Linked DNA regions of Homo sapiens: regions 2, 3 and 4 are each reported to be linked to region 1. The links are microRNA targets in miRTarBase. Many come from high-throughput screens and were not tested one by one. Region 1 holds a microRNA gene; each other region holds the end of a gene's coding sequence. Distances are between the middles of the regions.
What was found. The annotated mature microRNA hsa-miR-6852-5p reads CCCUGGGGUUCUGAGGACAUG and lies in region 1 at 4,779-4,799, shown strand. An mRNA with a match to its seed (bases 2 to 7 or 8) in the 3' UTR can be bound and repressed. Matches are read on the target gene's strand: a 7mer-m8 pairs with bases 2 to 8, a 7mer-A1 pairs with bases 2 to 7 and ends in A, and an 8mer does both.

Region 2: miRTarBase lists LETM2 as a target of hsa-miR-6852-5p. The part of its 3' UTR that is shown has no 7-base or 8-base seed match.
Region 3: the mRNA of AOPEP is a reported target of hsa-miR-6852-5p. The part of its 3' UTR that is shown has no 7-base or 8-base seed match.
Region 4: miRTarBase lists UCK1 as a target of hsa-miR-6852-5p. Seed matches in the 3' UTR shown: 7mer-m8 at 6,457-6,463 and 7mer-m8 at 5,709-5,715.

The regions. Positions count from the first base shown.
Region 1 is chr9:35,708,073-35,715,514 of GRCh38, reverse strand. It overlaps MIR6852 (microRNA 6852), which reads left to right and starts at 4,774; the gene lies at 4,774-4,839. It overlaps TLN1 (talin 1), which reads left to right. Exons shown (of 57, transcript NM_006289.4): 21 at 328-456; 22 at 639-755; 23 at 828-941; 24 at 1,142-1,276; 25 at 1,434-1,562; 26 at 2,217-2,319; 27 at 2,472-2,680; 28 at 3,391-3,510; 29 at 3,723-3,920; 30 at 4,121-4,260; 31 at 4,433-4,526; 32 at 4,629-4,718; 33 at 4,832-4,954; 34 at 7,031-7,174. RefSeq lists enhancers at 1-808, 3,394-3,443, 3,535-4,734.
Region 2 is chr8:38,406,571-38,413,965 of GRCh38, reverse strand. It overlaps LETM2 (leucine zipper and EF-hand containing transmembrane protein 2), which reads right to left. Exons shown (of 11, transcript NM_001286819.2): 9 at 6,928-7,020; 10 at 6,503-6,604; 11 at 4,439-5,754. The coding sequence ends at 5,692. It overlaps FGFR1 (fibroblast growth factor receptor 1), which reads left to right. Exons shown (of 18, transcript NM_023110.3): 17 at 1-48; 18 at 162-2,823. The coding sequence ends at 338. LOC102723716 (a long non-coding RNA gene) reads left to right here and starts at 955. Exons shown (of 4, transcript NR_188043.1): 1 at 955-3,072. RefSeq lists enhancers at 207-880, 881-1,553 and a silencer at 4,166-4,215.
Region 3 is chr9:95,081,688-95,089,129 of GRCh38, forward strand. It overlaps AOPEP (aminopeptidase O (putative)), which reads left to right. Exons shown (of 17, transcript NM_001193329.3): 16 at 888-1,032; 17 at 4,995-5,472. The coding sequence ends at 1,028. It overlaps MIR23B (microRNA 23b), which reads left to right and starts at 3,521; the gene lies at 3,521-3,617. MIR27B (microRNA 27b) reads left to right here and starts at 3,758; the gene lies at 3,758-3,854. It overlaps MIR3074 (microRNA 3074), which reads right to left and starts at 4,407; the gene lies at 4,327-4,407. It also overlaps MIR24-1.
Region 4 is chr9:131,518,478-131,525,919 of GRCh38, forward strand. UCK1 (uridine-cytidine kinase 1) reads right to left here. Exons shown (of 7, transcript NM_031432.5): 7 at 5,324-6,744. The coding sequence ends at 6,563. It overlaps POMT1 (protein O-mannosyltransferase 1), which reads left to right. Exons shown (of 20, transcript NM_001077365.2): 14 at 1-60; 15 at 360-480; 16 at 912-1,009; 17 at 1,603-1,716; 18 at 2,869-2,995; 19 at 3,570-3,747; 20 at 4,455-5,322. The coding sequence ends at 4,629. Among named protein-coding and RNA genes, the nearest start is that of UCK1, 9.1 kb to the right of the region's middle.

The DNA of each region.
Region 1 (7,442 bases):
TGAGATGCCTGCTCTAAACTGAGTCCTCCTTTGTCCAGGAAGCCCTACTCACCTCACTCGTGTGGTATTCCCCAAGGAGGGGAAGACAAAACAATTCCACCTTAAGAAAGGATTTCAGCATCCAGTGGGAATCCTAGCCCCCTGAGGTTTCCCATTGACCTTCATGAGTCAGCTCCTCTCAAAGGTGATTGCCTTTTGGTGGGGCTAGTTAGAGATGACTTCAGGAAAATACATGAATTTTAAACTGAGTCTAGAGGAGTGAGAGAGGAGCTTCTTTAGGATCCACAGGAGAGCTGGGTGATGACTGTCTTTCCACCTCTCCCTCAGGGAGCAGCTGCCCACCCTGACAGTGAGGAGCAGCAGCAGCGGCTGCGGGAGGCAGCTGAGGGGCTGCGCATGGCCACCAATGCAGCTGCGCAGAATGCCATCAAGAAAAAGCTGGTGCAGCGCCTGGAGGTGAGGCTGGGAGTTTCACCAGGAGCAAGAGAGAGTGTGGGTGCTGTGGGAGGAATGAACTGAAAGGGAGGTGCGGAGAGTAAGTTAATACGTCCTTGAGGCATAACCTGGGCAAGGTAGGCCAGGGACTGGGCTGGGCATGGGAATCCATGGGCTTGGTCTGACTACTCTTGTCTTCACAGCATGCAGCCAAGCAGGCTGCAGCCTCAGCCACACAGACCATCGCTGCAGCTCAGCACGCAGCCTCTACCCCCAAGGCCTCTGCCGGCCCCCAGCCCCTGCTGGTGCAGAGCTGCAAGGTAAGACTCTAGGAAGGATGTGGGAGTGGAAGAGGGAGACTTGTGGGTCTCTTATGACATTTTCACCTACAGGCAGTGGCAGAGCAGATTCCACTGCTGGTGCAGGGCGTCCGAGGAAGCCAAGCCCAGCCTGACAGCCCCAGCGCTCAGCTTGCCCTCATTGCTGCCAGCCAGAGCTTCCTGCAGGCAAGGCACCCCCTCTGCACTTCTCTGACCTGACCTTCCCACCTTTCTAAGCTTCCATCTCCCACAGTTTGAATCTCTGCCAAGAGCCTCTTTCCCAATACCAAGCCCCAGTGTTCCCTACATCCTGACCATCATCAGTCCTTGTACCCAAGCCCAGAGGGAGGATGGCACACTTCATCCACCTGCCTATTCCCCAACAGCCAGGTGGGAAGATGGTGGCAGCTGCAAAGGCCTCAGTGCCAACGATTCAGGACCAGGCTTCAGCCATGCAGCTGAGTCAGTGTGCCAAGAACCTGGGCACCGCGCTGGCTGAACTCCGGACGGCTGCCCAGAAGGTATGGAAGCTGGTTCTGGCTTTGGAAGATGAGGCTGGAGTCCTGTGATGAGAGGAAATCTGTGCAGAATAACCCAATACGCAGATAATTGTGTAATCAGAGGCATTGGTGAGACACAGCAGGACCTTCTACACCCAAAACCCCTTTCTTATCATAGGCTCAGGAAGCATGTGGACCTTTGGAGATGGATTCTGCACTGAGTGTGGTACAGAATCTAGAGAAAGATCTACAGGAAGTGAAGGCAGCAGCTCGAGATGGCAAGCTTAAACCCTTACCTGGGGAGACAGTAAGTATGTTTAAGACCTCATTCTTACTCAAATCCTAAAGTCTTCCTTCACCTCCGTGCCCCAGAGCTGCTCAAAACCTTTCCTTCCTTCCTTTTTCTTTTTTCTCTTTCTCTCTTTTATTTTTCTTTTCTTTCTTCTTCCTTCCTTTTTTCTTTCTCTTTCTCTCTCCTTCCTTCTTTCTTCCTTCCTTTCTTTTCTTCCTTTCCTCTCCTCTTTCTTTTCTTTTCTCTTTTCTTTTCTTTTCCGTTCTTTTATTTCTTTTTCTTTCTTGATGGAGTCTCGCTCTGTCACCTAAACTGTAGTGCAGTTGTGCAATCTCAGCTCACTGCAACCTCTGCCTCCTGGGTTCAAGCCATTCTCCTGCCTCAGCCTCCTGAGTAGCTGGGATTACAGGCATGCACCACCACGCCTGGCTAATTTTTGTATTTTTAGTAGAGATGGGGTTTCGCCATGTTGCCCAGGCTGGTCTTGAACTCCTGACCTCAGGTGATCCACCTGCCTCAGCCTCCCAACGTGCTAGGATTATAGGTGGGAGCCATCGCACCCAGCCCAAAACATTTATTTAAATTGCCACCTGTCCCCAAGTACCTTCTCAGGTTCCTTCTCCTCACCTTCTCCTTTCTCAAGCCCAATTCTTCCCCCTTCATCCTTAGATGGAGAAGTGTACCCAGGACCTGGGCAACAGCACCAAAGCCGTGAGCTCAGCCATCGCCCAGCTACTGGGAGAGGTTGCCCAGGGCAATGAGAATTATGCAGGTATGTGGGCAGAGAGCCAGGCATGGGGCATATTGTGAGGGAGGTAGGAAAATGGGAGCTGGATGAGGGATGGGACTGACAGACGAAACCACTGGAATCAGGGCCTGGCAATGAAAGCACCTTCCCTTCCCTCTTTCTCCTCATCTCCCAAGGTATTGCAGCTCGGGATGTGGCAGGTGGGCTGCGGTCACTGGCCCAGGCCGCTAGGGGAGTCGCTGCACTGACGTCAGATCCTGCAGTGCAGGCCATTGTACTTGATACGGCCAGTGATGTGCTGGACAAGGCCAGCAGCCTCATTGAGGAGGCGAAAAAGGCAGCTGGCCATCCAGGGGACCCTGAGAGCCAGCAGCGGCTTGCCCAGGTCAGATACTGGGAAAGGGCCACTCCCTCTCCCCCAGGTTCCTTCATAAGGCCCACCCTGATTGAGGCCAAAGCTTCTGAGCCTCGTCCACACTCACAGAGTGATGTCTTCTTGGGTCTGCTCTTGACAGCCCCTCTGTGGATTCCACCCTTATGTTCTCTTAGTCTTTTTTTTTTTTTTTTTTTTGAGACAGAGTTTTGCTCTTACTGCCCAGGCTGGAGTGCAATGGCGCAATTTCGGCTCAGTGCAGTCTCCGCCTCCTGGGTTCAAGTGATTCTCCTGCCTCAGACTCCCTAGTAGCTGGGACTACAGGCATGCGCCACCACACCCAGCTAATTTTTGAATTTTGTTTTAGTAGAGACAGGGCTTCACCATGTTGGCCAGGATGGTCTCGATCTCTTGACCTCGTGATCTGCCCCCCTCGGCCTCCCATAGTGCTGGGATTACAGGCGTGAGCCACTGTGCCCGGCCCTCTTGGTCTTGTAGAAGTGTCTCAGTTGGATTCAGTCATGGGCTGAGCTAAACACCAAGTTTGGGGAAGTTTAATTACTGTCACTTGAAACCCTAACCTCAGCCTGTTCACCTACAACGCCCCCTTTCTTTTTTCACTTTCAGAGGCAGTAGAGCTAGTCATCTCCCATGTCGCGTGAATGGAGGCGATCTCTCAAATTCTTTTCACTTGGGCAACCCTGTCTCCTTTCTCACCCCAGGTGGCTAAAGCAGTGACCCAGGCTCTGAACCGCTGTGTCAGCTGCCTACCTGGCCAGCGCGATGTGGATAATGCCCTGAGGGCAGTTGGAGATGCCAGCAAGCGACTCCTGAGTGACTCGGTAGGAGGACGGTAGGGGGTGGGGGAACGTAGGAGTCAAAGAATGCCAGGCCTCTCCTTCCTCCCTCTCGGTTGTCCTTTGACCCTGACTTCCCAGATCTGTCCCCTTTCATTACTCCCAGGCTATGTGCCCACCTTTTCAGCCCTCCTTTACCAGACTTCTCCCTGCATCATTCCCCACTCTTCTGTCTGACTTCCCCTCTCACCTTGCAGCTTCCTCCTAGCACTGGGACATTTCAAGAAGCTCAGAGCCGGTTGAATGAAGCTGCTGCTGGGCTGAATCAGGCAGCCACAGAACTGGTGCAGGCCTCTCGGGGAACCCCTCAGGACCTGGCTCGAGCCTCAGGCCGATTTGGACAGGACTTCAGCACCTTCCTGGAAGCTGGTGTGGAGATGGCAGGCCAGGCTCCGGTATGAAGAGGCAGAGGGTCTGGTTGAATGGTTCCCACTAAGGGTTAGATAGGAGGCAGTTGAGTGACCAGTCCTGACTTGCTCCTGGCTCCCTTCCCTCCCCAGTCTCTAGCACTACTTGAGTGTCTGGGAAAGAAGATCCCTTTTAGAGACAGATAAGAAAGGACAGGACAATGCATTGACCTTGTCACCTTCAACAGAGCCAGGAGGACCGAGCCCAAGTTGTGTCCAACTTGAAGGGCATCTCCATGTCTTCAAGCAAACTTCTTCTGGCTGCCAAGGCCCTGTCCACGGACCCTGCTGCCCCTAACCTCAAGAGTCAGCTGGCTGCAGCTGCCAGGTAAGTAGTTGCTGAGAAGCCCAGCCCTGGACTGTGTGAGAGAGACTGGGGAGCAGGCAGTTCATGAGAGCTTCTTGGCTTAGGAATGGTTATAGGCAAAAGATAAATACTTACATAGGACCCAGGAATGATGACCTATTCACCTTTTCACTCAACTTTCTGTCACTCCCAGGGCAGTAACTGACAGCATCAATCAGCTCATCACTATGTGCACCCAGCAGGCACCCGGCCAGAAGGAGTGTGATAACGCCCTGCGGGAATTGGAGGTAGACACATGGCAGGCTGATGGCATTGAGGTTGAGGGAAGTGTTCTGGTTTTGGGCCTGAGGGAGGTGTCTTGGATCTCACTTTGCCCTCCCCCTACACAGACGGTCCGGGAACTCCTGGAGAACCCAGTCCAGCCCATCAATGACATGTCCTACTTTGGTTGCCTGGACAGTGTAATGGAGAACTCAAAGGTCAGCACAGCCAGGAACTCGGAGGAGAGAGGGCAGTAGGATGGAGCTAACCAGATGCTGCCCTGGGGTTCTGAGGACATGCTCTGACTCCCCTGATGTCCTCTGTTCCTCAGGTGCTGGGCGAGGCCATGACTGGCATCTCCCAAAATGCCAAGAACGGAAACCTGCCAGAGTTTGGAGATGCCATTTCCACAGCCTCAAAGGCACTTTGTGGCTTCACCGAGGCAGCTGCACAGGTTATTTTCCTGAGATGGGTTCTTTGAATGGCCCCTACTTTCTTTACCCCATTTTCTCTCAGCCTGACATACCTGTAGATAAATCAAGAAGTTTATGTTTGCAAAGCCAACTCTATGGAATCTGGGTTGTCCTCCTCCTGAAGTGGAGACACTTGTCAGCAATTACTGAACACCAGCAGTTCTGATTTCTGTAATTCCTGAACCCTGGTACTTTGGTTAGGATTACACTGCCCAACCGTGAGGCCTTTTCCAGCTGGCTTTCTCAAAATATACTAATTAGCTTATACAAACTATTTTTTCATGTTATTACTACTTTCTTTTTTTTTTTTTTTTTTTTTGAGACAGCGTTTCGCTCTGTCGCCCAGGCTGAAGTGCAATGGCGTGATCTAGGCTCACTGCAAGCTCCGCCTCCCGGGTTCACGCTAGTCTCCTGCCTCAGCCTTCCAAGTAGCTGGGACTACAGGCGCTCACCACCACACCCGGCTAATTTTTTGTATTTTTTTTTTTTTTTTTAGTAAAGACAGGGTTTCACCATGTTAGCCAGGATGGTCTCGATATCCTGACTCGTGATCCACCTGCCTCGGCCTCCCAAAGTGCTGGAATTACAGGCGTGAGCCACCGCGCCTGGCCTGTAATCACTACTTTCTTTTTTTTTTTTTTTTTTTTTTTTTTTTGAGACCGAGTTTCGCTCTGTCGCCCAGGCTGGAGTGCAGTGGCGCGATCTAGACTCACTGCAAGCTCCGCCTCCCGGGTTCACGCCATTCTCCTGCCTCAGCCTCCCGTGTAGCTGGGACTACAGGCGCGCGCCACCATGCCCGGCTAATTTTTGTATTTTTAGTAGAGACGGGGTTTCACCGTGTTAGCCAGGATGGTCTCGATCTCCTGACCTCGTGATCCGCCCGTCTCGACCTCCCAAAGTGCTGGGATTACAGGCGTGAGCCACCGCGCCCGGCCAATCACTACTTTCTTAAAATAGTACTAGTGACAAAATTTCCAGTTACTTGAGTTATCACTTAACTTTGCCTTTTCCCACATTATCAAGTATAAAACTACCTATTAGCTGTAAAGTATTTTGCTTTAGTATATGAATCCTTAAAACAAACTGGCATCATAAGAGTTCACTTCAGACTATTTTCCCTGAAAGCCTACCATCCTAGCCCTCCATCTCCACCACCTCCCTGTGCCCTGTCAGAATAGGCGCCTTGCTCTAGATGGCTTGTTTGATTTTGTTTTTTTGTTTTTTTGGTTTTTTGTTTGTTTGTTTTTTGAGACGGAGTCTCGCTCTGTCGCCAGGCTGGAGTGCAGAGGCATAATCTCGGCTCACTGCAACCTCCGCCTCCCGGGTTCAAGTGATTCTCCTACCTCAGCCTCCCGAGTAGCTGGGACTACAGGCGCCTGCCACCACACCCGTCTGATTTTTGTATTTTTAGTAGAGACAGGGTTTCACTAAACCTCTTTGTTGTTTGTTTGGTTTTTTTCCCCCCACCTTCTGAAAATGCATAGAGGAAAAAGCAAAGCTACTGTGTATTGATTGAAGTATGAATCAAACATTAGGATGTTCTTTCCATCATAAAAATGGCTTTTTAACCCCTCCCTTCCTTTCCAAATATCTGACGCATGGAGGTGCTATAAATGTGAATTAGCCTAATAACCTTCATCAGTTTTGAACTGTCTTTAAAAGAGGCTTTGCTTGTGTGCACAAAGGTGTGTATTTATATATGGCTCTCAAACGTTTTACTGCTACTTACAGTAAGCCATACTTTTCACTCTAAGACCCAACATACACAAACATATCTAAATAGAGATTGGATAAAAACCCTTGCTATGTAGTTTTCCTTTTTATTAACTTTTTTAATCTTCTGAAATGCTTGAATATACTTAATGAAAACAGGAGAGTATTTTTTTTCTTCTTTATAGTGTAACCATTGTTTGCTAATGTATCTCCACTCATGGAGAACTCTGGAAAATAAGCCCTATTCTCTAAACTTACCTCTGCTCTCTTTTGTCCCTACTATCACTATTCATTTCCCACCTGCAATCTTTATTCCTCACCCCCACCCCCTTTTCTCTTCCCAGGCTGCATATCTGGTTGGTGTCTCTGACCCCAATAGCCAAGCTGGACAGCAAGGGCTAGTGGAGCCCACACAGTTTGCCCGTGCAAACCAGGCAATTCAGATGGCCTGCCAGAGTTTGGGAGAGCCTGGCTGTACCCAGGCCCAGGTAACTCAAGGGAACAGGGACCACAGGCGAGTCTGGGAAAGGGCAGACCGACCCCGTGGAGTAGAGGGAGGTGAGGCATGTGGGAAAGAGGGCAGGGACCCATCTCTGACCTTGCACACACAGCTTCTTTTTGGGTAACTGTCTTTTTCTGCCATGGGTCTCATCATTTATCAGTTACTGCTAAATTCACAACTTCTCTGTAGATGTTCGAGCTTACTCTCCCACATGCCCTCTTATGGTTTCTCCATTAGTATGTCTTTCCTCTCCC
Region 2 (7,395 bases), not on the chromosome of region 1:
CAGCTGGTGGAAGACCTGGACCGCATCGTGGCCTTGACCTCCAACCAGGTAAGGCTGCCCGTGCCAGAGCCAGAGCTCAGGCCGTCCCCACTGCGTGCACGCACCTCCCTGAGCAGGGAGGAGGGGCCCGGCCCATCGCTGCTTCCTCTCGCCCATCACAGGAGTACCTGGACCTGTCCATGCCCCTGGACCAGTACTCCCCCAGCTTTCCCGACACCCGGAGCTCTACGTGCTCCTCAGGGGAGGATTCCGTCTTCTCTCATGAGCCGCTGCCCGAGGAGCCCTGCCTGCCCCGACACCCAGCCCAGCTTGCCAATGGCGGACTCAAACGCCGCTGACTGCCACCCACACGCCCTCCCCAGACTCCACCGTCAGCTGTAACCCTCACCCACAGCCCCTGCTGGGCCCACCACCTGTCCGTCCCTGTCCCCTTTCCTGCTGGCAGGAGCCGGCTGCCTACCAGGGGCCTTCCTGTGTGGCCTGCCTTCACCCCACTCAGCTCACCTCTCCCTCCACCTCCTCTCCACCTGCTGGTGAGAGGTGCAAAGAGGCAGATCTTTGCTGCCAGCCACTTCATCCCCTCCCAGATGTTGGACCAACACCCCTCCCTGCCACCAGGCACTGCCTGGAGGGCAGGGAGTGGGAGCCAATGAACAGGCATGCAAGTGAGAGCTTCCTGAGCTTTCTCCTGTCGGTTTGGTCTGTTTTGCCTTCACCCATAAGCCCCTCGCACTCTGGTGGCAGGTGCCTTGTCCTCAGGGCTACAGCAGTAGGGAGGTCAGTGCTTCGTGCCTCGATTGAAGGTGACCTCTGCCCCAGATAGGTGGTGCCAGTGGCTTATTAATTCCGATACTAGTTTGCTTTGCTGACCAAATGCCTGGTACCAGAGGATGGTGAGGCGAAGGCCAGGTTGGGGGCAGTGTTGTGGCCCTGGGGCCCAGCCCCAAACTGGGGGCTCTGTATATAGCTATGAAGAAAACACAAAGTGTATAAATCTGAGTATATATTTACATGTCTTTTTAAAAGGGTCGTTACCAGAGATTTACCCATCGGGTAAGATGCTCCTGGTGGCTGGGAGGCATCAGTTGCTATATATTAAAAACAAAAAAGAAAAAAAAGGAAAATGTTTTTAAAAAGGTCATATATTTTTTGCTACTTTTGCTGTTTTATTTTTTTAAATTATGTTCTAAACCTATTTTCAGTTTAGGTCCCTCAATAAAAATTGCTGCTGCTTCATTTATCTATGGGCTGTATGAAAAGGGTGGGAATGTCCACTGGAAAGAAGGGACACCCACGGGCCCTGGGGCTAGGTCTGTCCCGAGGGCACCGCATGCTCCCGGCGCAGGTTCCTTGTAACCTCTTCTTCCTAGGTCCTGCACCCAGACCTCACGACGCACCTCCTGCCTCTCCGCTGCTTTTGGAAAGTCAGAAAAAGAAGATGTCTGCTTCGAGGGCAGGAACCCCATCCATGCAGTAGAGGCGCTGGGCAGAGAGTCAAGGCCCAGCAGCCATCGACCATGGATGGTTTCCTCCAAGGAAACCGGTGGGGTTGGGCTGGGGAGGGGGCACCTACCTAGGAATAGCCACGGGGTAGAGCTACAGTGATTAAGAGGAAAGCAAGGGCGCGGTTGCTCACGCCTGTAATCCCAGCACTTTGGGACACCGAGGTGGGCAGATCACTTCAGGTCAGGAGTTTGAGACCAGCCTGGCCAACTTAGTGAAACCCCATCTCTACTAAAAATGCAAAAATTATCCAGGCATGGTGGCACACGCCTGTAATCCCAGCTCCACAGGAGGCTGAGGCAGAATCCCTTGAAGCTGGGAGGCGGAGGTTGCAGTGAGCCGAGATTGCGCCATTGCACTCCAGCCTGGGCAACAGAGAAAACAAAAAGGAAAACAAATGATGAAGGTCTGCAGAAACTGAAACCCAGACATGTGTCTGCCCCCTCTATGTGGGCATGGTTTTGCCAGTGCTTCTAAGTGCAGGAGAACATGTCACCTGAGGCTAGTTTTGCATTCAGGTCCCTGGCTTCGTTTCTTGTTGGTATGCCTCCCCAGATCGTCCTTCCTGTATCCATGTGACCAGACTGTATTTGTTGGGACTGTCGCAGATCTTGGCTTCTTACAGTTCTTCCTGTCCAAACTCCATCCTGTCCCTCAGGAACGGGGGGAAAATTCTCCGAATGTTTTTGGTTTTTTGGCTGCTTGGAATTTACTTCTGCCACCTGCTGGTCATCACTGTCCTCACTAAGTGGATTCTGGCTCCCCCGTACCTCATGGCTCAAACTACCACTCCTCAGTCGCTATATTAAAGCTTATATTTTGCTGGATTACTGCTAAATACAAAAGAAAGTTCAATATGTTTTCATTTCTGTAGGGAAAATGGGATTGCTGCTTTAAATTTCTGAGCTAGGGATTTTTTGGCAGCTGCAGTGTTGGCGACTATTGTAAAATTCTCTTTGTTTCTCTCTGTAAATAGCACCTGCTAACATTACAATTTGTATTTATGTTTAAAGAAGGCATCATTTGGTGAACAGAACTAGGAAATGAATTTTTAGCTCTTAAAAGCATTTGCTTTGAGACCGCACAGGAGTGTCTTTCCTTGTAAAACAGTGATGATAATTTCTGCCTTGGCCCTACCTTGAAGCAATGTTGTGTGAAGGGATGAAGAATCTAAAAGTCTTCATAAGTCCTTGGGAGAGGTGCTAGAAAAATATAAGGCACTATCATAATTACAGTGATGTCCTTGCTGTTACTACTCAAATCACCCACAAATTTCCCCAAAGACTGCGCTAGCTGTCAAATAAAAGACAGTGAAATTGACCTGAGAGAAAATGAAATGGCCGTTTTACTTAGAGGACCAAATTGGGTCTCCTGAGGAAAGGAATCCAGTTTATCTAATGAAGATGTTGTGCCATGAAGGCACTGAGTCTGTCTGGTTTCCTGAGGGTTAAAAGATTAGGGCTGGGATCACCACAGCATTAATCAATACTGCCTTTCCGTCTCTTCTAATTGCCATAGGCTGGAGATCATCGGTCCCTTGGCCCTGCTAATGTAATGTATTGATCTCAGGTAAGTAAGATTGAGCATCAAATGAGGCAAGAAATCTGTCTCATTGTTAATGAGGTTGCTGTGCTTATTCGCCACCACTGGGTGGAGCCAGCGAGCTGAAGTTTCAGTTGGCATTAGGTGAAGCACCAGTCCGCTCTCAAGTCACATTGGTCCAACTACTACCTGCTAGTGTGTGCTGGTGGTGAGTGGGAAATCTTTAGCCTAGATTTGGCATTACAGAAAAACTGGGCAGCACTGATGTGGCTCGTTTTGGGATGATTTTAGAATTAGACATGACACAGGTGCAAGGCCCTAAGTGTCAGTGGCCACCACCTCTCTATTGTAGCAGAATTGTGTGTAAGACCCAGGACACATCTAGCATCACTGTAGTTGGGTTTTTAGAGAATGCCTAAAGTGGCCAGGCATGGTGGCGCATGTCTGTAATCCCAGCACTTTGGGAGGCTGAGGCAGGCAGATCACCTGAGGTCGGGAGTTCAAGACCAGCCTGGCCAACATGGTGAAACCCCATCTCTACAAAAATACAAAAATTAGCCAGGCGTGGTGGTGCATGCCTTTAATCCCAGCTACTCCAGAGACTGCGGCAGGAGAATCGCTTGAACCCAGGAGGCAGACGTTGCAGTGACAAGATCGTGCCACTGCACTCCAGCCTGGGTGACAGCAAGACTGTCTCAAAAGAAAAAAAAAAAAAAAAAAAAAAATCTAAAGTCATACCCAATGAGATCATTAGTGGCAGGTAGAGCCAAGGCATCTGCATCTATAGAGAAGGGAGCAGAGAGGAGAAAGCTCTGAAACAGCTGGCACAGCCTTCCATTCCCTCCACTGAGGAGAGCCAGGGAAGAAGGTGGTCAGTAAGAACCCAACTGCTAAGACTTGGTCTGGGCGGGTTCCTTCTAGGTGGACCGTCAACAGTATTCAGGACCATTTCCACCATACTGCCCTACATGCAGGTCTTCGCGTGCAGAAGGGATCTATTTCATAAACATGCTAACTAGAGGTGTAACTTTCATTACCCCGGGAGGCTCAAAGAGTTGGTGGTTAACGATTTACCAGAACACCACTAGCTGGGGCTAGATGTAAGGATCACTGAACCCAACAGCCAAGCACCCTAAATGATGAGAACAACAAAACATCCTTGACTTCTCTGAGCTGCTAGCAGAAGAGTGGGAGGAGAGGTCTATCAAGTGGCCCGGGTCCCTTGACCAGGTCACTGCTCATTCCCACCCTGCTCGGAGGGAAAGCCAGAAGGAACTGTAGGACAGCCCAGCAGTACCTATGACTCATTCAGCTAAAACAGAATTGAGCAAGTTTAGCTAATCCCTTTCCCACATTTAACACCTGAAATGTGGACTAATTAAAATACCCGTCATTTTTGAAATGGGAAAGTGTATTGTGAATCACCTCGATAGGCAGGATCCATGATTGCTGTATGTGCACAGTAGGGATTCATCATTCCCAAAGAACTGGGCTTCATTAGTGGGACATGGTGGGGCTTCTCTGATGGAGCACAAATTTAGAAAGCATTGTAGAATGCATATTCTTGCTGTGAAGTGCTGGTGACATTCCTCATTTAGGTGATCCCAGACAGGACAGTGGAGTTTTACTTGTTTTAACTGACTGCTGTCTAACCACAGCAAGTAAAGAAATCTAATTTTATCACCTACAGGCTGAAATACCTTTGGCCTTCTAACCACTCCCCAGGGGAAGAAAGCCCTTGGTCAGCTGCATGGCAGTCTATCTATTATTTCATATTATTAATACTGAAAACACCAAGCATAAATATCCTAATGTAATACTTGTTGCTGGGTAGCACAGGGATTATATCAGACTTTCACAATCCCTATGACTAATAGTCTTATTTGTGAAAGACAAACTGGCCAGAAACACACACACCCAACACAAACATGGTTAAGGCTTAAACCCTTAATTATGCTTCCTAGCAAAATGGTGGCTAATGAAAGCCATATGTGCTAGAAGAGTGGCTGCCTCGCAGATTGCGGCTGCCTCACAGATTGCTGCAGCCTCTGCAGGCCCAAGATGGAGGTGTCGGAAGCAGCCAAATCTTTCTGATTGCCAGTCTGTTTCTCCAGGAAGCTTCATTATATCCAGAAAGATCTTACTGGGGAGTATATCCATCCCATCTCATAAGGTACTTTGTTTCCAGGGTGCTGATCCTACTGGTGGATCATTCAGAAAGTTAATCAGGTGCTCCTAAAATGGTTTTTGGAACTTCCAAGTTCTTACTCAGAATTCCAAGCCATAGGAGACAGGTATCTAAGGTGCCAAGCTGATTCCATTGTGCAAAAAATTTCCTCTCTGAAGGGACGTACACATGAAACTAAAAAAACAACATGATGGGGGGTGGGCTTTATACAAAGTTGAGTGGGGTGACAATGGTACAGAGGAAATGGGACTTTGCAATTATATTTTTCTAAGTGGTCTGAACTTGGTCTCACTACCCACATCACCTGGAATGGTTACCAGGCCTCAAAGGACTGCCCCACGGGCTAAACAGCTGATCCGCTCTCTGAAGCCAGACAGTCTTATCTGGGAGGTCCTTTACAGATGCCACTGTTGAGGGCCGGAAGCTGAAGAGAGTGAGCTCCATCCTCAAGTAGTCCTTTATGCTCCTTTTGAACTAGCCTTGCTGTTCTGGGCCGTCATTTGTGATTTGGCCTGGAGTGTCTAGGCGTAAAAAACAAGGACTGTAGGCATTAGTCACAGACGTGTAAGTTCTTAAGGAGTGAATGCTATTTTTGTTTTCTTAATCAAAATAGTGACCACAAAGTCAAATCTGAGATTATAATTTACCTTGGTAATAAAAGATAAAGGAGATTTACAAAAAACAAGGTATGTGTGTGCCTTGGGATGCTTTTCTGGGCTTACCCCATCTGTGTCTTCATAGATTCTCTGTCCTGCCAGCCATGTCTTTGGTCCACAGGAGCCACTTCCCACTTCAACTCTCCCACAACCTCCCCACTGTTTACTCTCTTCATGCCCTGTGCTCTTGCCCCAAATCCCTTCACCCAATTGGGAAAACTGGATGATAGATAAGTAGTTTCTTATTTACATGCATTTCTCTGGAAATTAAAGTTGCTTTCCAGCTAGTATTTCCTCACGTCGGAAGCATGTGTAAAATAACACATGGAAACTATTTCCACCTGGCACATAAGAAAAAAAGGGTCTGCCTATATTGTAACTGACTTCTACACTTTGCATGTTTTAGTCTGACCCACAATTTTTTTTTTTGGATAGTTGAAGTAAAAAACGTGGTTACAAGATGACTAAAGTTTGGCCTACAATTTCCTGTTTGGACAACAGGAAGAATTGTGCAGTGTTTTGCAACAGGACTAATTCTAGATTCTCACTGCCCTTAAAGATAACTAGAGGGAAAGGGTCTTCTCTTTCTTTTTCATTTATTAAAGATACTTACAGGTTCTTCAGAAGAAGTGATGGGTCCTTTAGGTAATGAAATAGGTGTTGATGGTGTTATGGGTGATGATGTAACTGGTGGCGGCTGTATAAAGTCTTCATCCTTAAACATCAGAACTGAGAGTTGGGTTACTGATTTAAAAGAAAATGTGTATTAATCTACAGTCCACTACCTTGACTACCAGGAACTTGTCACAACTACCTCATATCCTGGCACAGGATTCAAAAGGCAAAATCTGGAACCTAATTACGTGTAGCCAAATATTAAGCTTCCTCTTAGATCAAACAGTACAATAAATATTCCTTATTAAGGAACATTATTGTATTGAATTTCAATTTCATTAAGGGGATTAAAACAGGAGAAAATGACCCATTGCTATTTTCATTTTTTAATCTAATTAACCAAATGGAAAGTAACTGTCTAACCTTAGTTCCCTTCAGTTGAGGTGCAAGATCCACCATGTTCTCTTTAGATTCAGTGAAAGTAGGTAATTCCACAAGAATATCAGTCTTTGGAGCCTGGGGAGATAAACATTTTATGTATCATAAGCTTTCTGCTCTTCCTAAAACCCAGAAACTTTTACAGTAGTCAATGCCTTTTTTAGCACTATTTGCTTTCCACTAAATCCCTAACTTCCTCCTCTAGCTACACCCTTTATGAGTAACCTATGAAATATGCCCCTGATGTAGCAACTTAGTATTATTTCTCTTTGAGTTTTGAGTACTTTATATACAAAAGTTGCACTCTGATAGATTCTAGCATTTAAAATAATCATTAGCAATCCACTGATGGCACTGGTCCTGCTGTTGGCCTCAAAAGCCATTTCTCAATTATTTGTTTTTCTTTTTTTCTTTTTTTTGGAGATGGAGTCTCACTCTGTCACCAAGGCTGGA
Region 3 (7,442 bases), 59 Mb from region 1:
AACTTTATGGTCTGTTCTAAAGACCAGAATTCACTGCAGTATATTTAGAATTGTGATCTTTGACAAATAAGGATCACCATGTCTGGACTTTTTTGGGAAAGCACTTTTGAACCCTTAACTACGAAGTTTTGCTCTTGCGATGTCTTTGAGACCCTTCTTTTAGTTTACTCCAGCGGAATGTAACTCGTGGCATAACTAAGCATGGCACAAGAGAGTAGACAGATCCAGATGGGCCCTTGGGTCTTCTAGAACGTCCTTGGCTATTTTAAAAATACAGGAAAAATGCAGATGTGAGTGTTTGCGGCATTGTTCCCAAGCAGCAGAGCCGGTGCGGGCTACGGTGCAGGGCTGTGGAGGAAAGGGCGCAGGCGGGGTGGGCGTCTCTGCGGGCATCGTGATGTGTCTCTGCCGCGGCTGCTGCCTGCTGTGCTCTTTGCTTCCCTGGCAGGTGAAGGACTTCCCGGATGAGCTCAGACCAGCTACTCCTAGGGACACACTTTGCGGGGCAGGAGTCCCGTGTCTGTAATGCCACACAGGCTCTCCGCGTGGTAATTCTGGGAACCATCTCTGTCTGTTCAGAGCGTTCCTGACACGGCCATCATGGTGGGAATGCCTGCTCATCGTTCTGTCACCAGTGAAATCGTCAGAGTCTGTGTAGAGAATTGGGAGCTGAGGATTCCTTGGGGTTTTGAGTACAAGGAGGAGACAGGGATTGCAGACTGCAGCTTCCAAAAGCACAGTCAGCCCACGGCCTCTGTCTTCTCTGGGGTCTTTGCAATTTCTAGACCAGCAAGTGTGTGTGGAACAAGCACAGACTGAGCTCATGTGTGCGTGTGTGTGGGTACCCACACCTTCGCCTGATGCCCTTTGGCCTCTGTGCCCTGCAGGCCATGGGTGTGTACCTCTACGGGGAGCTGATGGTGAGTGAGGACGCCAGACAGCAGCAGCTCGCCCGTAGGTGCTTCGAGCGGACCAAGGAGCAGATGGATAGGTCCTCAGCCCAGGTGGTGGCCGAAATGTTATTTTAACGAGGTGATTCTCTCCCTTTCCTTTCTGTCATTTAGTTCTAACCAGATACTCCTTTTAGGAGCCAACTAAATCAGTAAGCCGAATAGTTAGCCAAGACTACCCGCAGCATCAATAGTCGGCTCCCTGGCCCAGGGCCTGGAGAGTAACTGGCCAAGTGGGTGCTGGGCTGGTATGGGAGCCCCGGGTCCCTGGAGCACCTTGCCTGGCTGTGGCAGTCACCGGGAAGCAGAGGCTGTCCACCTGGAGGCACAGCGGCACTCCTTGGCACTATTTTGGCCACTTCAGGTTTTATAATCTGTTGAAACAAAAATTGTGGGGGAACATCTTGAGTAGGTTTAGAGATGGAATGGGAAGCCTGGCAGAAGCGCTGGTCCAGTCTTCAGGGTCACGGCTGATACAGGAGTTTAAGCGGCCGTGTGACTCCAAAGCCTAGCTTCTGCAAGCAGATGTTTTCTTCTAGCCATGTGTGAATTGGAGGTTCCTTGGGCTGTCCACGCCTGGTCATCGGCTGGCAGGAGGCTCTCCAGGCACACGCAGCACACACAGCACATGCACCACACGTAGCACACACACTGCATGCAGCACACACACACCAGAGGACGCACCACACAGAGCACGCACAGCACACACCACACAGCGCACGCACCACACAGAGCACACGCGGCACACACAGCACACACAGCGCACGCACCACGCAGAGCACACACGGCACATGCAGCATACACACCAAACAGCGCACGCACCACACAGAGCACACGCGGCACACGCAGCACACACACCACACAGAGCACCTGGAGCACCCACAGCACACACACCACGCAGAGTACACGCGGCACACACACCACACACAGCGCATGCACAACACAGAGCACACACAGCACATGCACCACACGTAGCGCGCACACTGCATGCAGCACACACACCACACACAGCGCGTGCACCACACAGAGCACCTGCGGCACACACAGCACACACCGCACGCACCACACAGAGCACATGTGGCACACACAGTGCACGCACCACACAGCACCCGCGGCGCACACAGCACACGTGGCATATGGCCTCCATGACCCTGTGTCTTGAGGGCAGGTCCTACTTTTTGCTTTGTTGTGTTGGAGCGGAATTTCTCCCCTGGCTTCTATTGGAGTCCTAGATTATTTAAATCACTTCCTCTGTTAATTGTGCCTGGAATTAACCTGTTAGATTTACTTCCTAGCAGTTAGTTGCTCAGTATGGGTTTCTACACTATTAAAGCAACCTAGCGGTAGTACACAAGGTTTTGTTAGGATAGCTGTGAGATTTTTTTTCTCTAACAATCATCATTATTTCTGTGTCTGCTCCGTTTTTCTTCAGTGTTTTATATGATATTAATAGGGGATGTCTAATTTTGTATCTTTAAAAAAACTTTATCAAATCTGAAGCATTTTTCGTGTTATAGCTTCTCTATAATTTTTCATGGATATTGAATATTTGGTGTTGATATTCTTCACTCAGTTTTGAACATTGAGTTTTCTTCTAATGTTTTGTGCTTATGAAAACCATTTCTGTGTAACGTGTTTAAGTAGCTTATTTATCTGAAAGAACTCTAATAATGAAAAGAAATAAAAAGTTTTTCAGAAGCATGATCATATTCTTCCAGAAGAGTCAGGAACCATGTGTGCCAGGAAAGGGAAACGGGACTGAGCGTCTCGTAGCGAAACGCCTGCTGCAGACTTGACGCGGCTCCCCTCCAGGACGGGCTGGCGGCACACAGACTGTGCACTTACCTCACTGCCGGCCTCATAATAGTAATCAGTGTAAATGGTGTTTCTCTTTCGTTTTGTTATTTCGTGGCGTACGTGTTAAAGTGTGTGAAACTACAAGGCCAGCTAGTCCTTTCATCATTCCCTTTGGTGCAGGTTTTGGAGCAGCACCACAGGGCACACCCCTCGCCACTCTTTATGGGGAATTTTTGCCCAGGCAGGCAAAGGAGTCATCTTGGTCACAAGTCTCCCTTTTCCCCCTCCCCAGCATCTTCGATCCTGTCCCCACCCCTCCAGATGCATCCAGGGGTTGCAAGCCTGCCCCCCAACCAGTCCCCGTGAGGAACAGTGGCCGGGATTGTCCCAGGGCCCCTTCCAGCAGGGGGACCTCCTGACTTGAGAGTCCCCAAAGCCTTCCCAGGGCAGCTAGAATCTGCCTGGAGAGAAGGGATCTTGTCCCCAAGGGTTAGAGGCAGTAAACTAATAGCAAGGACAGCTGCCTTTAGCAATTGTGTGTGTCGCATGGCCGGTCCCTGCATTTTTCTTCAGTTCCAAAGCTGCACTGGCATTTTTATGGTCATCTCTGGAGTCCCTTTGATTCAAGAAATTATACCTCTAGGATGCCAACTAAACGAACAACAAACAGAAACTCCACCTGTTTGCTAGCATAACAGGCGTGAAGGCGGCAGTGTCGCCGGCGTCCTTCCGCGGAAGCCCAGTGTGTGCAGACAGCACGGGGTGGCGCTGCTCTCAGGTGCTCTGGCTGCTTGGGTTCCTGGCATGCTGATTTGTGACTTAAGATTAAAATCACATTGCCAGGGATTACCACGCAACCACGACCTTGGCTGCTCCTCCAGAAACCGTGGTCGCGCTCACTGCAGATTGGAGAACAGGTGCATCTCGTAGCTCTTCTTTGGAAACAAAAGAAGCCACCAGCTGAGGAAGATGCTCACCGGTCACCGTCCCTTTATTTATGCCCAGCGATGACCTCTCTAACAAGGTGCAGAGCTTAGCTGATTGGTGAACAGTGATTGGTTTCCGCTTTGTTCACAGTGGCTAAGTTCTGCACCTGAAGAGAAGGTGAGATGGGGACAGTTAAGTTGGAGCCGCTGGGGCAGAGGCCGTTGCTGACGGGCCGGCCGCTGCTGCACAGTCAGCTTGGGTGCGGAGCGCGATCCTGGAGGATGAGAGACCACTTGACCCCAAGGATGCACTGTCTCCTGCTGGGAATGCTAGCCATGTACTGAGTCCTTAAGTCTGTCCACAGAAACATGCACTAATCGGACATCTGTCTGAAAGGTCAAATGTATTGAAAGTTGCAAAAATTCTTCTTACAAAAAACTAAAACCAAATGCATCACCTAAGTCGTGTGAAATCATGTGGTAGCTCATGGCTGTGAGCGGGGCGGGGCGGGGCTTTCGGAGGAGCTCCTGTTGTTCTGGGCGCGGTGAACTCTCTCTTGTATTTGCAGTCCAGGCCTTCGCGTCTCCTGCGCCAGCAGACGGTGCCCACGGAGCTCCCAGCTGAGGCGCTGCTTCTCCGGGCTGTCGATTGGACCCGCCCTCCGGTGCCTACTGAGCTGATATCAGTTCTCATTTTACACACTGGCTCAGTTCAGCAGGAACAGGAGTCGAGCCCTTGAGCAAAAAGCCTTCGTGTCTGTAAGTGCCCGAGGCTCAGGAGAGCTGGGGCTCCCACTCGCGGCAGACAGGCCCGCGTCCACCCTGCGTCCACCCCGGCCCGGCGGCAGCACGGTGCCAGTCATCTGCATGTGCTCCTGCGGCGTGGGGGTTTGTAGACTTGGAAAACCCTGTTGGCAGAAAGTTAAGAGCTCCCAGGCCTGAAGGCAGGACACAGTGCCAGCAGGGGGCCGTTTGCCCCCATGTGTAAGGGAGGCAGGGCCCAGCTCTCCCACGGCGAGGTGAGCTGAGACTTTCTGAGAACAGTTAGAGTGGGTGCGTGTCTGAAATGGGTACTCCTAGCAGCTATTGTGTACGCAAAGCCTGAGTACAGCCTGCTGGTGTCATGGCCACGTGTGAGCAGGCCAGCGTCACACGGCTCGCTGTGACCCGTCCCGGAGACTGAAATGGGCCTGGGTCTTCTCCTTGTCCTGTGATTAAAGTCCTCTCTTGAAAGTGGAGAGCAAAGGCACACAGAGGTGCGCGCTCACAAGAATTCCTCCCGGTGACTGGGTAATCAATGTTACTGCTGTTTCCTTTGCAGGAAAGACCACAGCAAGATTCTTTCATTCGTCTCCTCCTAGCCTGGGGGACCAGGCTCGAACTGACCCTGGACATCAAAGGAGGGATTATGTGGCTGCTAAAGCCATCGGCCCACAGCCCTGTTCACATCTTGGTGCTTCTCTTTCCCAGAGGCTGGTCCCAGCCAGGCACACACAAAAGGCAGATTCTCGTAAACGCAGCCTCCCTCCCTGGAGGCTGCCTCCTGCCCTGGATCTGGAGTGGAGCTGCTCTGAGATTTTGAGTTCTTCTGCAGAGATGATTAAATATATCCAAGAGACATTGGAAAACCTGCTGAACATTTTACATTGGTCTGCTCAGCACATGGCTGGATGCGGATATTTCTATAATTCCAGAAAGTCACACAGCTCCTCTGTATGAGACCAGTGGGCGCCATTTAAAAGAACAGGATGAGAATCTAAGATATATTATTAATAAATGTAATGGATTTTTTTTTTGTATACGTGTTTGCTTCTAAATTTCATACTGTTTAAAAATAATAAAGGCCAGGTGCGGTGGCTCATGCCTATAATCCCAGCACTTTGGGAGGCCGAGGTGGGTGGATCACGAGGTCAGGAGATCGAGACCATCCTGGCTAACATGGTGAAACCCTGTCTCTACTAAAATACAAAAAATTAGGCGGGCGTGGTGGTGGGCACCTGTAATCCCAGCTACTCGGGAGACTGAGGCAGGAGAATCGCTTGAACCCAGGAGGTGGCAGTTGCAGTGAGCCGAGATTGCGCCACTGCACTCCAGCCTGGGCGACAGAGCAAGACTCCATCTCAAAAAAAAAAAAAAAAAAAAAAAAAAAGCACGTACAAGAAAAAGGTATTCTCCACATTCTGGTGTTCCCCCCCCACCTCACTAGTTTCTTTGTTGTTTTCAAGGTAGTGTTAGTTCTCTTAGAAGCCTGAAAACAAAAGTAATTTGGCTGCGCGTGGGGCACCCTCTTCCGATAAAATGGAGAGCCTGGGCATATTCAGGCATCGTGGGAGTCTGGTGGTATGATTTTTCTTTCTCCACAAGGTTTAGGGTATAGACAGAAGCTGGGCACTGAGCTTCCTTGGCACTGTCCATGGGGCAGAATGTTTGAAAATGCCTGGAGAAGGCTGTAGGAACGGGTGCAGCCATGGGCCCTGTGCCAAGTTGGGCTGAGCATGAGTGCACCTGAACACACCCACAGTCTCCTCTGCCTGGCTCCAGGGGGCAGCACAAATTCTGGCCTGTTTGGGGTGAAGTGGGGCTCTACCATGGATCTCATTAGAAGCTCTGGACTGGGAGGCCTTGGTCTCCAGAACTCTCTTTTCTTGTCCCAGTGACTGATTCCAGAACGTTCTTAGGATTTGCTCTCTGCTGTCACATGCCTTTGCGTGGGACTGTATAGCTGGCTGTGCCATCGTGGAGGATGGCTCAGAACTTGACTGTTATGTTTGAATAAATACACGACCGCGGCTTCCTGTGGAGATTTAGAATGAACGATGCTTTCTCTCTGTGTGCTGCTGCCTTTTTTTTTTCCTTCCTTTCTTTTTTTTGACAGTTTCACTCTTGTTGCGCAGGCTGGAATGCAATGGCACGATCTCTGTACACTGCAACCTCCGCCTCCCGGGTTCAAGCGATTCTCCTGCCCCAGCCTCCCGAGTAGCTGGGATTACAGGCTCCCGCCACCATGCCCAGCTAATTTTGTATTTTTAGTGGAGATGGGGTTTCACCACGTTGGTCAGGCTGGTCTCGAACTCCCGACCTCACGTGATCCACCTGCCTCGGCCTCCCAAAGTGCCGGGATTATAGGCGTGAACCACTGTACCCGGCCTCTCTCTCTCTCTCTCTCTGCGCTTTCTAAGTGTGTTTGGCTTTCACTGAGGCAGAGCCAGGAAGGACCGTGGGAGTACCGGCCGCACTGCCCTGCGAGGCTCCCACTCCCACTGTGTGCAGATGCTTGGCACCTGGAGCTCTCAAGAGCTGCGGGTGGCTCACCGGCCCAGTGGTTTGGGGTGACCTTGCTTTTCCAAAAAGTGAAAGCCATGCTTTATCTTCTTTAGAAACCACTAAAGCAAAGCTGAACTGCTGAATAGGTGGGGTTCTGCACAAAGACCACTAATCCCCTGGCTCCTGTGAGTCACCGGGTCTTGTGACTTGCTTTGACCACCGGGGATCTGGCCAGTGGGTGGCATAAATTTGGTGGACCTCATCAGAACCGGACATTGCTGTCACGGATTTGACTGAGGTCCTGCCAGGAGTCGGCCTTTGCTGCCTCCAGACCTGGGGGCACCCTGCCCGTGCTGGGGCTGCCCCTGGAGGTGAGGGAGGGAGGAAGCCGGAGAGCAGCTCCGCCACTCTCTCCAGGCAGGAGGCTCCCCGAGGCTCTGCAACTGCCCTCGCCGGCATCCTTCACCCGTGCCTCAGCTGACTCTGAATGGGTTCTGCTAGCTGC
Region 4 (7,442 bases), 96 Mb from region 1:
TGGAAGACCATCCTCTCAGAGGTCCGCTTTGTGCACGTGAACACTTCCGCTGTCTTAAAGGTAAGGACACTGTCCGTGGCTTGGCCTGTCCTGAGCTGTGGGCTCCAGTCTGTTTCCCAAGCCCCTCAGGCTTCACCGCCTCTCTGCAGGCGGAACGCTTCATTTGAGTCATCATGGCTTCCTCTTACACTGAGGGAGGGCGGCTTTTGTAACTTCTCAGGATGGAATCCCAATGTGAATCTCCCACAAGGGGCACCTGCTGACAGCGTGACCCGGGCAGGGGTTCCCCTTCCAACCCAAGTGGACACGGGAGCCACGGCCTTCCCATCACGCCCTTTACTCTCCTGCGGTGTCACCAGCTGAGCGGGGCTCACCTCCCTGACTGGGGGTATCGGCAACTGGAGATCGTCGGGGAGAAGCTGTCCCGGGGCTACCACGGGAGCACGGTGTGGAACGTGGAGGAGCACCGATACGGCGCGAGTGAGTCCGCGGCGTGGCTTCCGCCGCTCCTGGAATGTACTTTCAGCTGCTCAATATTTGATAACACCCCAGAGTTCTCATTTTGGTGGGAAGGGAACTGAGCACATTCTCCATGCTCGGTGGCAGGTCATCTCCCTCCCTGCACCCTGCACTCAGCTGCTGCAGTAATAACTCAAGACGCTTCTTCCGAGGTGTCGCTGGAAGGCAACCAGTTTATCCCCGTGCAAGTGGAGCTTTCTCAGGGTCGAAATCACCTCATTTGACCGGGCAGTCTTGGGTGTGGTGGGGAAAGCTAAGTGGAATGATGCGGTTCGATAAGGGGTCTTTGTTAGAAAGGCAGGAAGCCAGCTTTTTGCTGCACTGACAGCTTCTGCTCTGAGCTCTTGACCTTGTGCTACTTCTATCTGTTATGCCCTTGTCTGTTCTGCCAGGCCAGGAGCAGAGGGAGCGGGAACGGGAGCTGCACTCACCTGCGCAGGTGGACGTCAGCAGGAACCTCAGCTTCATGGCGAGATTCTCGGAGCTGCAGGTGAGGAGCGGCCAGGGGAAGCTGGCCTAGCTCGCTGAGCATTGACTCCTCAGCAGGGAGGCCTGGGGGCTGCACAGGACTCAAACCAGAGTCAGGCTTTGACGCTGGAGCTACAGGCTCACAACAGAATGAGTGTCTCCTCTCTCCAGTGTAAGGGACTGTGTGTGACACCCCTGGCCCACACCTTGTGGCCCTGTGGTCAGGAATAATAGGGACCCAGGAGGTTCTGCAACATCGCCAGGGTGTCTTAAGGCCCCCAGGCAGCGAAATGGGCCACACTCAACAGAGCCCAAGAGAAGTCACAATCAGAAACTCACGGTCACAAATCTGAACGTGACCTTAGAGAGCATTCAGCCCAATCACTTCGTCTACAGAGGAGGTAACTGGAGCACATAGGGTGGGGCGACCCTCCCAAGGCCACATTCAGGGCTGGAATCCAGGTTCTCATCATGCTGCCTCCGATGCATGATCCGAATGAACTTGAGCTGGGCCAGTCCACGTGCAAGGGGCAGCAGTGTACTCCTTTGACCAAATCCACGCACAGCGGGAGGCATCCCCCATCCTCAATCTCAGAGGCCTCTGCTTTGTTCCAGTGGAGGATGCTGGCGCTGAGAAGTGATGACTCGGAACACAAGTACAGCTCCAGCCCACTGGAGTGGGTCACCCTGGACACCAATATTGCCTACTGGCTGCACCCCAGGACCAGCGTAAGCGAGCGATGCTGACAGCTGACAGTCATAGATTCATCCTGTTTCTTGAGAATTCCTTGCATTAAGAGCAGCCGCTGCACCCTAGAAAGTGCTGGGTTTCTCCCAAGCTTTTCCTGACAAAGGCCTGTGACTTGGTTTTCTCTAAACGCTTTGGCAACCTGGAGCCAGGAGTAGGGGTGTGGCATGTGTGCCTGTTGAAGGAAACCCGGCTTGATTGCTTTTGTGGAGACACATTGTTCCCCTTTTCCTGGCGAAAGTGGTTTTAAGATATTCCCATTCAATTTTCCGTGTGGCACCTGGTGGTGGAGCTTACCGGTGCTTTGCTGATGTGCGTGCCGTCTCTCCACCCGGCAGAGTGAAAGCATTGGTAGGCCGGGCGCACAGTCAGCGCCCCATAAATATTCACTGAATGGGCAGACGCTGGAAATGCCCACCTTTTTCCTCCTCCCTCAGAGGCGGGTAGGTCGGCTCAGCATGTGCACTGAAGGCAGAGGCTCAGGCCCAGAGGCCGCCCCACCCCGAGCTCTGAGCGCACTTTGCATTCTCCTCCGTGGACAGCGCTGCTGTTACAAAGTGGAGTCATCTGCTCCCAATTTTCAGTTTCCAATTACAAAATTGAGAGCATCAGTGCTGTGTGTGTGTGTGTATGTGAGAGAGAAAGAGAGAGACGGAGTCTTGCTCTGTCATCCAGGCTGGAGTACAGTGGCGTGATCTTGGCTCACTGCAACCTCCACCTCCCAGGTTCAAGCAGTTCTCCTGCCTCAGCCTCCAAGTAGCTGGTATTACAGGTGCCCACCGCAATGCCCAGCTAATTTTTGTACTTTTTAATAGAGACGGGGTTTCGCCACGTTGGGCAGGCTGGTCTCAAACTCCTGACTTCAGGTGATCTGCCCACCTCAGCTTCCCAAAGTGCTGGGATTACAGGCATGTGCCACCACACCCGGCTGGCATCAGTGCTTTTAATGAAAGGTCTGAGTAGGAGCAGACCTGTCCACAGTAGTAGTAAGGCCTAGTGGATGCTAGGCTGTGCCTGGCGTTTTTTCACTCTGCTAAAGTAGTGCGTGCATCTGAATTCCTTTCCTGTGTTCTCTTCTCTTCCCTCCCTGAGCAGAGGGCAGGTGGCTAACAGCATCTCCCATGTTCCCTTAGGCTCAGATCCACCTACTTGGAAACATAGTGATCTGGGTTTCGGGCAGCCTCGCTCTGGCCATCTACGCCCTGCTGTCCTTGTGGTACCTGCTCCGACGGCGAAGAAATGTCCATGACCTCCCTCAGGGTTAGTACCTCTCCCACATGGCTTTCTTTCTTTTTAATATAGACATGGGGTCTTGCTGTGTTGTCCAGGGTGTTCTTGAACTCCTGGGCTTAAGCGATCCTCCTGCCTCGGCCTCCCATAGTGCTAGGATTACAGGTGTGCGCTGAGCATTCACCGCCTCAAGTGACAAACCGACTTCATAGGAACCTACCCCTTAACGCGGCCTCTTTGTTTCTGTATTGTGGAATCTTAAATTATGTTTGTCTCCCAAGAGACAAAATGTTAAGTTCCCATGTTGCGTTAGAGGTGTCTCCAGTCGAGTGCAGCGTATTGGGCAGGAATTGCCCTCTTGGTCCCATGTTGCCCGTATGCGCTGGAAATGGCTGGGTAACACAGGCAGCCAGGCCGGGCGCGGTGGCTTACACCTGTAATCCCAGCACTTTGGGAGGCCAAAGTGAGGGAGTCACCTGAGGCCAGGAGTTCAAAACCAGCCTGGGCAACATAGTAAGAACCCTCTCTCTAAAAAAGCAAAAGAGAGAGAAGACCCGGCCTGTGGGAGCAGCAGAGTCGGTGTAGCTCGAGCCCTTTCCTATAGATGCCTGGCTGCGCTGGGTGCTGGCTGGGGCGCTGTGTGCCGGTGGCTGGGCAGTGAACTACCTCCCGTTCTTCCTGATGGAGAAGACACTCTTCCTCTACCACTACCTGCCCGCACTCACCTTCCAAATCCTTCTGCTCCCTGTGGTCCTGCAGCACATCAGCGACCACCTGTGCAGGTACGGGGGCTGCGGAGACAGTGGCTGGACCGGGCAGCAGCCCTCTGCTGGGAAGCCCATGCGCAGCAAACACATGGGGTGCAGCGAACCTCACCCATTTCACGTTACACTGACATCCTCCGGGTCCCTCCGGGGAATGGGTGAGGTTCAGAAGAGATGCCCAGATGAGGCACTGCAGGAACCCAGAGGGAGAAGTCGCGGCTGACAGAGATGAAAGCGGAGTGGGTGGGGAGACGGGGAGGGGATGAAGAGATGTGGGTGGCCTGGAGGATTCGGGAGCAGGGAGCAAGGCCCAGGAGCCTGGGGTGTCAGAAACGGCAGCTGGTTATGGTCGGGTTGTGTGGTGTGGTGGAGAGAACCCAAGAAAGCTTCTAAACCAGAGTGTGTTTGGAGGTTGGAGCAGAGGGCGAGGGCCTCCCGGTTTCAGGAAGCCACACAAGGGAGGACCGTGGGTTTGGGACCAGTCCTCTGGCATCTGTGTGGAGGTGGCCCAGCCACTGTGGAGGCCTGAGGAGTCATCAGGGGGCCCCTCTCAGTGCATCCAGGTGGGAGATGGTCATGGGTGGCAGGAGACAAGACACAGAAACCTGAAGGCAGAACCCCAGGCCTCGGGGGGTGACCGTGTGGACAGCAGATGCCAAGAGGGTGCCGGGCAGGGAAGCCGCAGTGGTCAGCCACCCTCCCCCACGCTGCTCTGACCTCTGCAGGTCCCAGCTCCAGAGGAGCATCTTCAGCGCCCTGGTGGTGGCCTGGTACTCCTCCGCGTGCCACGTGTCCAACACGCTGCGCCCACTCACCTACGGGGACAAGTCACTCTCGCCACATGAACTCAAGGCCCTTCGCTGGAAAGACAGCTGGGACATCTTGATCCGAAAACACTAGAACAAGAGTGTGGCAAAGAACACCCGTGCTGGGGTCGGGATGAGGTTGAAGGGTCTTGGTCAATGTACGTAATGAGCAGGGTGGGCCCCACGCTGGGAGGACACGGGCTGGGCTGAGCAGGGCCTCTAGTGGAACACATGGGGGTCTCATTGAAAAGCTCTCTGATGAGCACCTCCTTTTGTGCAAAGTTAATTTTTTCTCGACAATAAAGATATTCCGTGTCTTTACCCCTGAACTAAGACACAGGGAGTATTTCAGAGGCCAGCGTAGGAGTCATTGACAACAAAAAGCCGAGAACCCAGGGCCAGCAGTGGAGCCTCAGCAGACCAGGGCCTGGTCCTTGCTAACTGCTGCAGGGTGGAGTTTGATCTGGCAGACCCGATCCTCCTTCATGAACACCCAGCAACCTGAGCAAGTCCCGGCCCTGCCCTCAGCGAGCCCGGCAGGCGTCCTGGGACAGCTCAGTGTTGGAGGGCCACCTGAACCACGAGCCAGGGCTGGGGCTTGCATGTCATTGTCTATGACAGCGTCAAGACTGGCCCTTGGCACCGTGCTGTGTGGAAACCCTCCCCTCTGAGACTCCACTGAGACGTGGCTGAGTGAAATCTTCCTCGTCAGTGGTCAAGGTGTGTCATCCATACAGCTCCATGCCTTTGTCTTTTTTAAATGTAATTAAAAAAGGAACCAACTGGCGTTTGTAGTTGGTGTTTGTTATTTATTGATTCTCCCTCCAAAGGGGCCTAAGCTCGACAAAACCGTTACAGTTGTCAGAACCCAGCCACAGGGCTCAGCCCCCTTCCCCCACGTCACGTCTGCATCACTACTGTGGGTGAGCCTGGACGGACGGGGGCTGGGGCTGCCCATGGCAGCGGCAAGGGATGCTTTCCAGAGACAGCCACCACGCAGGAGGGAGGATCACCCCAGGCAACCCAGACACGGGTGTTCACATGTGAGGCTGTGAGCTCCACATAGCACAAAGGAGGCTTGCTGACTTTGGGCGGCCATGTCTGCTGGGACCTGGGTGATCCAGTGCGTGCCACAGCCAGAAGCACCATTCCCTGCATATGGCCACTAGCCACCCTGGGGTGGGACAGCCTGTCTAGACAGACAGCACCTTGGGGGCTCCCCTGAGGGTCAGTGAGGGCCTGACCCCAGGCAGGACTGCGTGGACGCTGTTCTCCAGCCGGGACAGACCTGGCCTCCGCTGCCTTCTGCCCTACTGCATGGGCTCCCAGCCTGGCCCCGCACAAGCCTGGGTGTGATGCTGGGTGCTTCCAGGGCATCCGCCTCGCTTCTCTGCCTTTAAGGCACAAGCAAGGGGGGAAAACATCCCTCAGTGGCTCCCCATATCCGTGTAGGCCACGCTGGACTGCAAACCACTGGGTCATGAAATTAGGTTTGTAGGCCACAACCAGCCTTGTGTTATGAAACAGAAAACAGAAAACATGAGGACATGTAACATGTAAAAAAGGAAAGTACTTGTTCACAAAACTTTTGAGTTATGTGTGTGAGTGTGTAAGAACCAGATCAGACTGGAAAAAACTCTCTCCCACTGTGGGTTCACTGTCAACAAAACATCAGGCCAGCCAGTGTCTAGGCTGTCTCCTCAATTTCCCCAATAATGTGCCTCACATTCCTCACAGAAGCCTCCCAGGCTTCCTGCACATTCTGTGGCATTTCTCAGTGACCTAGAGGGATCTTTAAACCGCAACGAGCCTAAGTGGCTGAAAACCTCAGGAACGCCTGTCAGTGTCCCAGCAAGTTGAGTCTGAGTGACACATCTGAGTTTCCACTCCTGAGTGAGGAAGGCCTCGCTGCTAACACTCCCCTGGGGTGCGCCGAGAGGAAGCAGTGGGTGTGGGTGGGCGTCCCCAGGCTCAGTCCCTGAACACACATGCCGGGCGGGAGACCTGCCCTGAGGCTCGGCAGCCCCTCAGTGGGGTCTGCTGCTGGACTCCAAATGTGACCGTTTGCCAGAGGTCAGCATCCCAGGGTGGTCCCCTGGCTCAGAAAAGGTCCGCTTGTAGCTCCGCCCATTGGACCCTCCTCGGTGCCATTTGCAGATGTCACCATTCAGAATGTCCTGGATGTGCTGCACGATCAGGTTGATGGCAACTGCGCCAAGAGACAGACAAGCAGCGGGTTAGCCGCATCCATCCTCCGTGGAGACCGCCCCTCCCCGCAGCACTCGGCCAGGAGTGAGCGCCCAACCTCTGCCCTGAGGCACAGCCTGCGGCGAGGGGCATCGAGTCAAATCTCAGCAGACAGAAACATGCATCAGGACACAGCAAAATAAGACTTCTTAGCTTGGTCTTCCAGGAATTTATGTTAGAGTCTGCTTAAAGTACTTTCTGCTAACAGATTTGAATATACATATATATATGTTTTAAGAAACAGGTTCTTACTTTACTGCCTAGGCTGGAGTGCAGTGGCCCAATCACAGCTCACTGCAGCCTCAACCTCCCAGGCTCAAGCAATCCTCCCACCTCAGCCTCCTGAGTAGCTGGGACCAGAGGCACATGCCACCATGCCCAAATAATTTTATTTTTTGTAGAGATGGGGTTTTGCTATGTTCCCCAGGCTGTTGAACTCCTGGGCTCCAGTGATCCCCCTGCCTCAGCCTCCCAAAGTGCTGGGATTACCAGTGTGAGGCACCGCGCCCAGCTACATACATTTTTAAGCATATTTTAACCCTGTGCCGCAGATCAACACTGGCAGGCCGCGTGCGCAGGGGAGTGCTCAGTAACTGCACACTGGTGGAACTGTCCCTGCCTCAAGCTCTGGGAGGGGCGGGGGGACAGCCCAGCAGGCCA